Linked DNA regions of Homo sapiens: region 2 is linked to region 1. Evidence: fine-mapped expression QTL. A gene starts in region 1. The other region holds a variant in brackets. All regions are shown on one strand. Distances are between the middles of the regions. Region 1 holds the start of SLC24A2 (solute carrier family 24 member 2). Region 2 has its middle 110 kb from the start of MIR4473.

Evidence for each region. PIP is the estimated chance that this variant, and not a neighbour inherited with it, causes the effect. A credible set is the group of variants that fine-mapping cannot tell apart.
Region 2: its variant is the best candidate, but not a certain one, in a credible set for the expression of SLC24A2 in regulatory T cells (Schmiedel 2018, PIP 0.83).

The regions. Positions count from the first base shown.
Region 1 is chr9:19,786,103-19,791,484 of GRCh38, reverse strand. It overlaps SLC24A2 (solute carrier family 24 member 2), which reads left to right and starts at 2,448. Exons shown (of 11, transcript NM_020344.4): 1 at 2,448-2,600; 2 at 4,466-5,382. The coding sequence starts at 4,619. It overlaps LOC124902128 (a long non-coding RNA gene), which reads right to left and starts at 2,326. Exons shown (of 2, transcript XR_007061432.1): 1 at 2,207-2,326; 2 at 425-560. RefSeq lists an enhancer at 2,885-3,532.
Region 2 is chr9:20,299,849-20,305,230 of GRCh38, reverse strand. It overlaps a transcript of SLC24A2 not described here. Among named protein-coding and RNA genes, the nearest start is that of MIR4473, 110 kb to the left of the region's middle. RefSeq lists an enhancer at 2,487-3,164. The variant G/A (reference allele first, on the strand shown) is at 3,276.

The sequences.
Region 1 (5,382 bases):
AGTCACTCCCACAACATTTATCTCCCCCTTCTCCCTTACTAAGAGAGCCCTGATTTTCTAAAAGATGACTATGTGCTCAGTTGAAATACTGTTTACACTCCCTTGCAGCTATGTCTTGTGACCAAGTCGTGATCAGTGAAATGTAAGTGAAGCATTGACAGAATCCCTTCCTAAATAAAAAGACAAAGCCTAGCAAGGAGGCCTTCTGCCTTTCACCCTTCACTCTTTCCCTTCTTCCTGCCTGGAACACAGATGTAATGCAAAAGAATAAACCATTTTGTAGCCATGAGGATAAAGCCATACATTAAGAAAGACAGATCAAAAGATCTGGGTTCCCAGATAGCATCTTGAAGCTATTTTATAAACCCTGGGCAGTCTGCTTTCAGACTTCTTTTTACCATGAGAAAAATAAATTCTTGTTTGGTTTAATCACCAAGAATGAATTTTTATTATGTGCAACCAAGTGCAAATCCCAGCCAATACAATCTATGGACTCATGAGGTCTTCATCTGGATCTCATTCCTCTTCTCACCGAATCAAGACTCAGGGTCATCTCTGAGCTGTAGGGGAAAAACCTGAAACCATAAAAATTCTAGAAGATAACATAAGAAAAACTCTTCTAGACATTGTGATATTCCCCTCCGCACCCCATGTAGCCAGAGGCACCTATTGCCTCAGGGAAGAATAGGATTGTTAAACTAGGAAAGTAGACAAAGGCAGGGTAAAAATAAAGCCTAATTGGTTACCCAGAGGTCCAATTTGTATAGAAAAGGCAAAATAAATGCACAATTGTTTTCCTTTTCCTAAAACAGTTTTGAAAATTATGAGCTGGTTCCCTCTGAACCATCAAGCAATCAATCTGTTCAGTTGTTTTTAAAATATTATCAATTAATAGATATAATCATGTTTGATGTGTTTTAAACAATTGCGATTATCTTTTTTTTTTTTTTTTTTGATGCTCAAATTAGCCCGTCTTTGGTCAGTGACAGCCTATTTGAATTGTCCCCTTCTTGACACAACCCTAGTGGTAGTTGATAGTTTTCTTGCTTTCTGAAAATATTTACAGATAAAATGATATGATGCTCTGGGATTTGCTTCAAAATGATGACATAGGAAAAAGGGGTATAGATGAAATATGACTGTCCATGAGTTCATAATTGTTCAAGCTGGTTATGGCCCCATGGAGATTCATTATACTACTTTCTTACATTTGTATATGTTTGAAATTTTCTAAATTAAAAGTTAAAGATAAAAAAATTCAGTCAGGCACCTATAGTCTGCAAGCACTTGGGAGTCTGAGGCTGGAGGATGGCTAGAGCCCAGGAATTCAAGACAAGCTTGGGCAACATAGCAAGATTCAGTCTCGAAAGGAGAAAGAAAAAGAAAAGTTGAGTCTTGAATGCCTGGCTTTGATTGGGGGGTGGGGGGAAGAAAAATATTTCTAAGTTCCCTAGGCTTCCCTTTACTTATTGATGAGTAGGCCCAGAGGTCTGACTACAGAGCTGTACTCTAAGTCAGAGGTCATGAGCTCTCAGGATATACCCATTACCCCCATTGTAAGGAGGGCATGAAGAAACCCTCTTGGATGGGGGAGAGAACAGAAGGATGGAGGGTAAGGAGAGGGGAAAATGTGCGAAAAGCTTTCAGAGCTTCACGAGTTGGGTACCTCTTGGCAGCTTTGCTGGTGGTCACAGGGTTGGGTAAAAGGGGTTCCCTCACTACCAATTTGTCTTACCACCGTCTTCCATTCTTTGGCCCAGATTCTAGTCTCTCATCCCCAACAAGCCTGATTCTATTTCTTGTGGTCAAGGGGATCTTGCTTTCCAGATAGGACAGGAAGGAGCACTGGGCTGGACATCCCGAGGCCAAAAGCCGAAGCCTGTCAGTGATTCAAAATGACACGGGGTTTTGGGTCTCACTTTCATCACCCATGAAATGAAAGGTCACCCTGCAAGACTGAAGCCCCTGCAGTGTCCCAAGCATCCAAATCCAACACTCAAGAAACCCTGGACCCCAACAGCCTGTCCTGCAGGCCTCCGTGCCTTTTCATTGAACGTCTTTTCCACCATTACACATCACATCGCCTCCTAAAGAAAAGCGCGACTGCTATCACTTTTTGCAGATAATTGGAGAGGCGGTGCCCAGCATAAGATGACCCCAAAGTTGACAGCACTTTCAGGCTTTGTGAATTAGGCGCGTCACCGACCTGTACGATTTCTCCTCTCTGCCCTTGCTCGCCTGCAAATCCTGACCCCCGTCCACACTGCGGAGAAATCTCCTAAGAGACGGCTGCCAGCGTCGCCTCTGCGCCCAGGAGGCGTGGAGCAAAGGACTCGGGAGCTGAGCGCGCTGCGGCCCCGCTCCCAGCGCACAGCGCACAGCCCAGAGGGAGGGGCCGGCGGGGGCCGGGCAGCGCCAGACTCGGAGCGCCGGGCTCACAGCGGCTCAGTCTCCTCCCGAACCCAGCCCGGCTGGCGAGAGCGGCAGCCAGTGCGAGCCAGAGCCCGGGCCTCAGAGCGGGTAGGCGGAGGGCCGGCGGACTGGAGCGGCGGGCCGCGCTCGGGGGCCCCGCCGTGTGCGCGTCCTCCCATCTTATCCTGGTAAGTGCGGGCGGCTGCGCCCCGCCTGCCGCTGTAGCCGCTGTGGCGGTCGTCCCCGCATCCCGGTTGCGCGCATCCCGTTGCTGCTCTGCAGGCTCACAGGTGGCTCTGCCGTGGATGTGGGCGCCCCAGGCCCCGCTAGGAGTTAGCCAACTCTCTGTGCTCCGGGGCGTGGATTTGGAGCCCCCGCCTCTCCTACCCTTGCTTTTGGCTTGGGATGGGGGGCGTGGGGCAGGGCCTGCCGTCGGGGGAGACGCGCAGAGGGGCGCTTCCATTCCCCAGCCACCTACAAACGACTCAGGGGGATGCGGGCCAAGCGCCTCACCAAATGCAACCCAGCTCCAAGCTCACAGGTGGGGCGTCTGTCCTTTAGATTTATTTTCCTATTAATCCACCAGGGAAAGTTTGGGACCACGCAAGGCAAAGTTGGGGCGCGGCTGGGGGCGAACATTCTCCTACGGAGGCAGCTCCCGGGGAGACGAGCGGTGGGTTTTCAGGGGGAGCGAGGATCGGGCTGGAGATGACTTTGCGCCCGGGGAGTTGAATCTGTCCCTGCTGGTCGCCCGGGCCGGGCATTTACACAATCCCCTGAGTGCTGTGAATCGCTTAATCGTTCCTGCTAAGCGTTGACGTTCGCAGCCACCTGGGAATCTCCGTGATGGGGTCGGGTTATCTCAGGAGTAGCAGCAACTCAGCGGGGTTGATTTGTGCTCTTGCTTTGCTCTGAAAACCTGAGCTCCAGCTAATCTCAGTATTTAAGTGGCGTGTGTTTAATTAGCTTATTTTACACCTGAGATTATCTCAGCGACTGCCTCCAAAATGAAATCGTTGATATGGAAAAGAATAGTCTTTTTAAAGAAAAACTAAAAAGAGAACTCTTCAGAATATCAGCTGTCAAGTCTGGCTATTTTACCCATCTCCTCCGTGGGATAGAGAAAGAAAACTCTGCTTTGGATATCTAACCTATTAAAGTCAGTGGTGGGGCTATTTTGGGCAGATTTTGTGGACAGAGGTATTGCTACAACTTGCGTATTGTTTATGAAATACACATGTGGTCTCTCGAAATAGCCTACTTGTTATTTCACTGCATTGGGAGTTCTTTGACTTACTAAGCTGCCTATTTTAAATATGACTAAAGGTTGTTTTTTTAAAAAAAATATTTAGCTGAAAACAATGTCTAGATGTTTAGGGAAGGCAGCTTGTGCATGTCACCAGAATTTTTTTTTGTAAACTTAAATTTGTAAAGGACTACTTTCCCGCATCTGATAAAGGAGAGACTTTTTATGAAAAATAAGATCTGATATCATTATGTGTGCAGAAAAAAGATCACTAAATTAAAGAATCACTCACTTTCCAAATGATAGGTTAAATCAGAAAAAGTTGCCTACAACTGAGAATTATGTAATTGGACCAAAAGTAAACAATGAATAATTGTTAGTTGCCAAGTACCTAGACAGTTCTGAAAGAAGTCTAGGTACCTTTATAGCACTGGAAGGTTATTACATGATTTAAGGTGAGATAATCTGATAGATTTTCACCTGTAAAATTTTTATTCTTACATCTGCCTTCTCTGCACCTAACATTGGATTTACCAAAATATTTATTTGGGTTTATACATACATCTTCATAAGTGCCACATCCCATACTAAGTGCTACATATGTTTTTACTCATCTTGAAAACAATCCTGGGTGGTAGGTACCGTAATTGTCCCCATTTTAAATGAGGAAACTGAGGCACAGAGAAGTTAAGTAACTTACCCAAGATCGCACAGCTGCAGGACAGGACTTTATCATATCTGCAAAGATCTTTATTAAAAAGACGTGATTTTATGATTTACTTATTCTCGTTTTTATTTTTATTTAAGCATAAATGATGAAAGTTTCCTGTGAAGCATAACAATCCCTGATTGTGAAAGTACCCCACAAGCATCGTTAACTATAAAGTAAGGAAAAGTATGAAAGAACCATCTGGTTGAGTCTAAAGTTGGAAGATCACCATATCCACCAGAAGACCCAGGATGGATCTGCAACAAAGCACCACCATCACTTCCCTAGAGAAATGGTGTTTGGATGAGTCACTGTCTGGCTGCAGAAGACATTATAGTGTCAAGAAAAAACTGAAGTTAATTCGAGTCTTAGGCCTTTTCATGGGTCTGGTAGCCATTAGCACTGTCTCATTTTCAATCAGTGCCTTTTCTGAGACAGATACACAGAGCACAGGAGAGGCCAGTGTTGTAAGTGGCCCTAGGGTAGCACAGGGTTACCATCAGAGAACTCTCTTAGATTTAAATGACAAGATTCTGGATTATACTCCACAGCCACCTCTTTCTAAGGAAGGCGAGTCTGAGAATAGTACAGATCACGCCCAAGGAGACTACCCGAAAGACATCTTTTCCCTTGAGGAGAGAAGAAAAGGTGCGATCATTCTGCATGTCATTGGAATGATCTACATGTTCATAGCCTTAGCCATTGTCTGTGATGAGTTCTTTGTTCCTTCTTTGACTGTCATCACTGAAAAACTGGGCATCTCTGATGATGTGGCTGGAGCCACCTTCATGGCTGCAGGAGGGTCAGCCCCAGAACTTTTCACATCTCTCATAGGGGTATTTATCGCTCACAGCAACGTTGGCATAGGCACAATTGTAGGTTCAGCAGTATTCAACATCCTCTTTGTTATTGGCATGTGTGCTCTGTTTTCTAGAGAAATCTTAAACCTGACATGGTGGCCGCTCTTTCGAGATGTGTCTTTCTACATTGTTGACTTGATCATGCTGATCATATT
Region 2 (5,382 bases), 510 kb before region 1:
GAGGCTGAGGCAGGAGAATCACTTGAACCTGCGAGGCAGAGATGCAGGGAGACGAGATTGTGCCACTGCACTCCAGCGTGGTGACAGAGCAAGACTCCATCTCAAAAAAAAAAAAAAAAAGGTATTATCCTATTTGGTAGAATCCGCTTTCTTTAACATGCATGTCTTTAAATAACTTTGTGCTAAATGGTGTTTTCCATATCCAATCCACTCTCCAGTGTGGGTATATGAAGTGGGGAGTCATTTAAGTAGTTGGATAGAGGCATGGTATGATCATAAGACTCATTGTGGGCTGGTGGACACCGAGACTGGCAGTAGGGTTGCTGGGCAGTTACTGTCGTGACCCAGGTGAGCTCATACGTGTCTCTGGGATCCCACCTAGGACTATGTCCTTGCTCTGCTGCTTATTATCCCTGAGACTTTAGGCAAGTTACTTGTTTCTTCTCTCTCTAGCTTGGTTTCCTCCTCTATAAAATAGAGAAGTGAAAATAGTCCAGGGCTATCTCATTTTATATAAGGATTGTGTTCCTGGAGACCCAGCATAATTCAAACAAAATGTACATATTTAAATCAAGAGTAATTTACCTATAAGAATAAGCATATACTGGGTTTTATGTTTATTCTGATGGGTAAAGTAGGCTTTACATTATTTTTATACCTTTAACTTTGTACCTTTCTGTGTGATTGAAACTTTCCAAACTTACGCATGTGTTTTATATAAAATACCAATGAGAATTATTTGGCTGTTAAAAGTCTTTTTTTAAACAGAAAATTATCTCTATCTCTGTATTTTTAAGTACTTTAAAACAATTTTGAAAATGTGTTTATTACAATGGACTCTTTCTAAATATCTTCTTTACCCTTCAAAAAAAGATCACTCAGGCCAGATGGTCAGTTTCCCTCTGTGCTTTATAAGCCCTTTGCAGAATCCGCTCCCGGGGCTGTGGGATGAGAGTTTAGGAAGGGGGCTGGGGGTGGGTTGGCAGTGAGGGACAGAGCATCCAGCAGTGAAATAGTTAACCTGCCTGCCACTGAAGTGGAGAGACCCAGCTTGAGGCAATCCTGTGTGAGGCAGCAATAAATTCAAGCCAGGTTTTCAGAGTGGAAACTGAAGCTAGCCTCTTTAATCAGATATTTCAGAGTCACTCAGCATAAAACCCAAGACTAACGAATTAGTACTTGGAACTGTTTTATAGCTATGTCATGAAATGTAGCTGAGATTCTCAGTGGACTTGGATACACCTTATGTGGTCACTGTCACTTAGGGACCGTAAGGCTGAAGGTACTTTCTTCCCAAGTCTTGCCCCATCCAAACCTCCAAAGCATAAGATGCACAGCACCCACTGAGCTGAGAGCCCCCTGCCCTGTCTGCATGTTAGCTTCAGATAAGATGCAAAGACTAGGAACACAGTGAGGTTTTGCCGCTAGGTTGTCCCTACTTAAGAAAAGCATTGCCTGTGTCTCTATTAAAAATAAAATGAACCCTTCTGGTGGCAAAGTTCAATTAAATTTCAAGATATGGCTACAGTCAGGTGGAGGAAAGACTTCTACTCTTGAAGGAGGTAATAATTGGGCAGCTAAGGGTTGGACGATCTTCAAGGCTCTGGTGCAAATGTCTCTTGCTTGATTGTTTTGGCAAACCTCCAGTTATTGGAAGTATCCCTGGCTGTATGGGCTGGGGGCTATCATCTTTTGTGGCCCTTAAACTATGCTGTCAGAACGTGGGAACTAGATTACTTCATTCTGCTCCTGGGAAAGGGAACAGACTTGTGGGATTTAAAATGAATACGTTAAATTTGTTGATTATCAAAGGGAAAAATAGAGAAAAATAAATAAACTCTTACAAGATCTTGGCTGAAGTACAGGGGCCAAAGTTTAAATCCTTGCTCTCAACCATGTTAGGATTTTGTAAAAGACCTTCAATTTTCCCTCCCAATTCACTCAGGTGGGAGGAGGGATGTACCCTTTGGAGGCCCCTGTTTCCCCTCAGGGTTCTTTTTTAATGTAAATGGAATGGTAAGAAGAGGGATAGTAACTGTACTCCCGTGATGCATGAAAAAGGGCAGCAGCCTTATGATGAATTTTTCCTTTTTTTTAAAGAAAAAAAATACAGATATATCTATGTATCTTAGTAAAAAATATTTTTAAAAGTGTGATAAGATGGATATTGTCACATGCAGGTAAGAGGGTAAAGTGGTACTTTTGGGGATGGAAGTTTAGCAAAATATATCAGATACTCTAACAAGATTGAGACTCCATTTCTCTTTTAGGAATTTATCCAAAGGAAATAATCCAAAAAGTGCACAATTATCAATATGCTGTCATTGCATTGTTTACAGTAGTGAAAATCTCAACCTCAATGTTGATCATATGGGAAATAATTGGTTATATTAATGTTGGTTCAGCCCCACAGTGGTATCATCCTTGGCAATTAAAAATAAATGACAACACCACCAAAGGCACAATCCATGAAAGAAATAATTGATAAGCCAGACTTCATTAAAATTAAAAACTTCTGCTCTGTGAAAGACATAGTCAAGAGAATGAGAAGACAAGCCATAGACTGGGAGAATATATTTGCAAAAGGCAGTCTGATAAAGGACTGCTATCCAAAAGAAAAGTATAAAAAAAACTCAACACCAAAATATGAAAATAACCTGATTAGAAAATAAGCCAAAGATCTCAACAGACACCTCACCACATAAGATATACAGATGGCAAATAAGCATATGAAAAGAAGTTCCACATCACTGTCATTAGGGAAATGCAAATCAAAACAATGAGATACCATTACATACCTATTAGAATGACCAAAGCCCAGAACACTGACAACACTAAATGCTGACAAGGATGGGAAGCAACAGGAGCTCTCATTGATTGCTGGTGTGGGTGCAAAATATAACAGTATGGCCATTTGGGAAGACGGTTTGCCAGTTTCTTACAAAACTAAAAATATGCTTACCATACAGCCCAGCAACTGAGCTCCTTGGTAGCTACCCAAAGGAGCTGAAAATTGTACAAAAACCTACACACAGATGTTAATAGCAGCTTTATTCAGAATTGCCAAAAACTTGGAAACAGGATATCTTTCCATAGGTGAATAGATAAATAAACGGTGGTATGTCCATGCAATGGAATATTATTCAGCGTTAAAAGTAAATGAGCTGTCAAGCCATGAGGAAACTTAAATGCATATTACTAAGTGAAAGAAGTGAGTTGTAAAGTCTATATAGTGTATGATTCCAACTCTATGACATTCCGGAAAAGGCAAAACT[G/A]TGAAGACAGTAAAAAGACCAATGGTTGCCAGGGTTTAGCGAGGAGGGAGAGGTGAATAGGCAGAGTACAGAGGGGTTTTAGGGCAGTGAAAGTACTCTGAATGATACTATAATAGTGGATACCTGTCATTAATACATTTGTTCTGACCCACAGAATGTACAACACCAAGAGTGAACCCTAATGTAAACCATGGACTTTGAGTGATTATGATGTGTCAACATTGGCTGACAGTTGTAACAAATGTACCACGCTGGTGGGGGATGTTGATAATGGAGGAGGCTCTGCATGTGGGGGTGCATGGAGTATATTGGAAATCTCTGTACCTTCCTCTCAATTTTGCTGTAAACCTAAAACTGCTTGAAAAAAAAAAAAGGCTTTAATTTCTTTTAAAGTCTTCATCTCTTACTATGATACCCTGAGCATTTCCCCCAATGTCTTTAAGGGAAAAGAAGCTGGAAATAAAAGGGTAAATGTGTGGTAATGACAGCTTTGTGAAAGTATACACATAGAAGGGGAGAAATGCAGCAAAGTCATGTCTAGGTGGTAGGGTTATGGTTAAAATAATTATTTTCTTTTACATTTTTTCCAAGGTTTTCAAGATTGAACCTATACCATTTTTATAATAAGAAAAAAAAATGTACTCCCCAGACAACAATGGATGTGAAGCAATTGCCAGTCTTCAGCCTGTGAGACAAAGGGGGACTAAGAGCATGTTTACTTGCTTGGAAGGTAGGACTTTTAACCAATGTTTCTTTCACCTGCCAAAGGCTGAGAAGCCAAGAAGATACTGGAGGTAGAGCAAAGTGTGTGCCTTTGTGTTTTTGCTCTTGTTTGCTTGGGGAGCAATGTGCCTTTGTGGCCTCTTCAGGTGGGAGAAGAGGTAGAGGAAGAGCTCCTCCAGTTTTTAATCCCCTCATCTAATCACCAGACCTTTCTTGTGGTTTTCCTGGGACTCTTTTTACTCAATGGATGGATTGACACTGTTTGTGTGTGTATGTTGTACTTGGATTATGCCTTAATGTGTCACGATGATGACAAAAGGGTTTGCAACAGCAGGCAGGCAAATGTCCCTGCTTTTAATAGAAAGCACATTCCAGCACTTTATATTATCTGTAACACATAGAGCTGCTTAGAACAAAGCATTGCCCCTAAGACATGGTCCCCAAGAGTCTTTAATAAGTTCCAGACCTCTGTGAAGGTATTAATTAAATATTTTAAATAGAATGACTTTAGCTGGCTGGGGCATTTTTATGAGAGAAGGGAGTATATTTAAAACCAGGGCCGTTTCTGTAACAGGAGCTTGTTTTGAAGGAAATGTTCTTGGGTGGGGACTCTATGGGTACCAGGCTGTCAAATCTATGGGCCAACTTGATGTCAAAAACAGACATTCTGGATGTTTCAAACAATATTTGAATTGGGTCCTTGCTGCAGAATTTGGACATAATTCTGAAGCATGATTTTAACACAAAGGGGAGAATAGTAAGAGTCTATGGGTATACCAGGCACTGTTAGAGGTAGTTTCTCACAATAGTTCCATGAGAAGGGCTTTGACAAGGCCATTTTATAGAAAACAAACAAACAAAACCTAAGTGACTATTTTTCAAAGTCACAAAGTTTGATGGAGGAGCTCAATTAAAGTCTGTCCAATAAACTCAAAGTCTGTCCAATAACTAAAAGATATAATTGGATTGTTTTTAACACAAAGGATAAATGCTCAAGGGGATAGATACCCCATTTTCCAAGATGTAATTACCATACATGGCATGCCTGTATCAAAACACTTCATGTACCCCATAAATACATATATACCTACTATGTATCCATAAAAATTTTAAAAAAGTCTGTCTGCCCATCTATCCAACCATCATCTGTGTATTTACATATGCATTTTTCTACCTATCCATCTTCTATATTTCAGAATACTTTACTCTTTCTCAGGAAGTACTAGAAATAAAGATAAGCTTAAAAAGCAGATCCTGGTCCAATTGATAGACATTTCCTGAATTCAAAGTCATCAGAGTTATTGAATACTGTGTAGAGTCTAGAAGCACAGAGTTAGCTGATTTTTCTAGAAGGCAGCATGATGTAGTGAAAAGAGCAATGCAC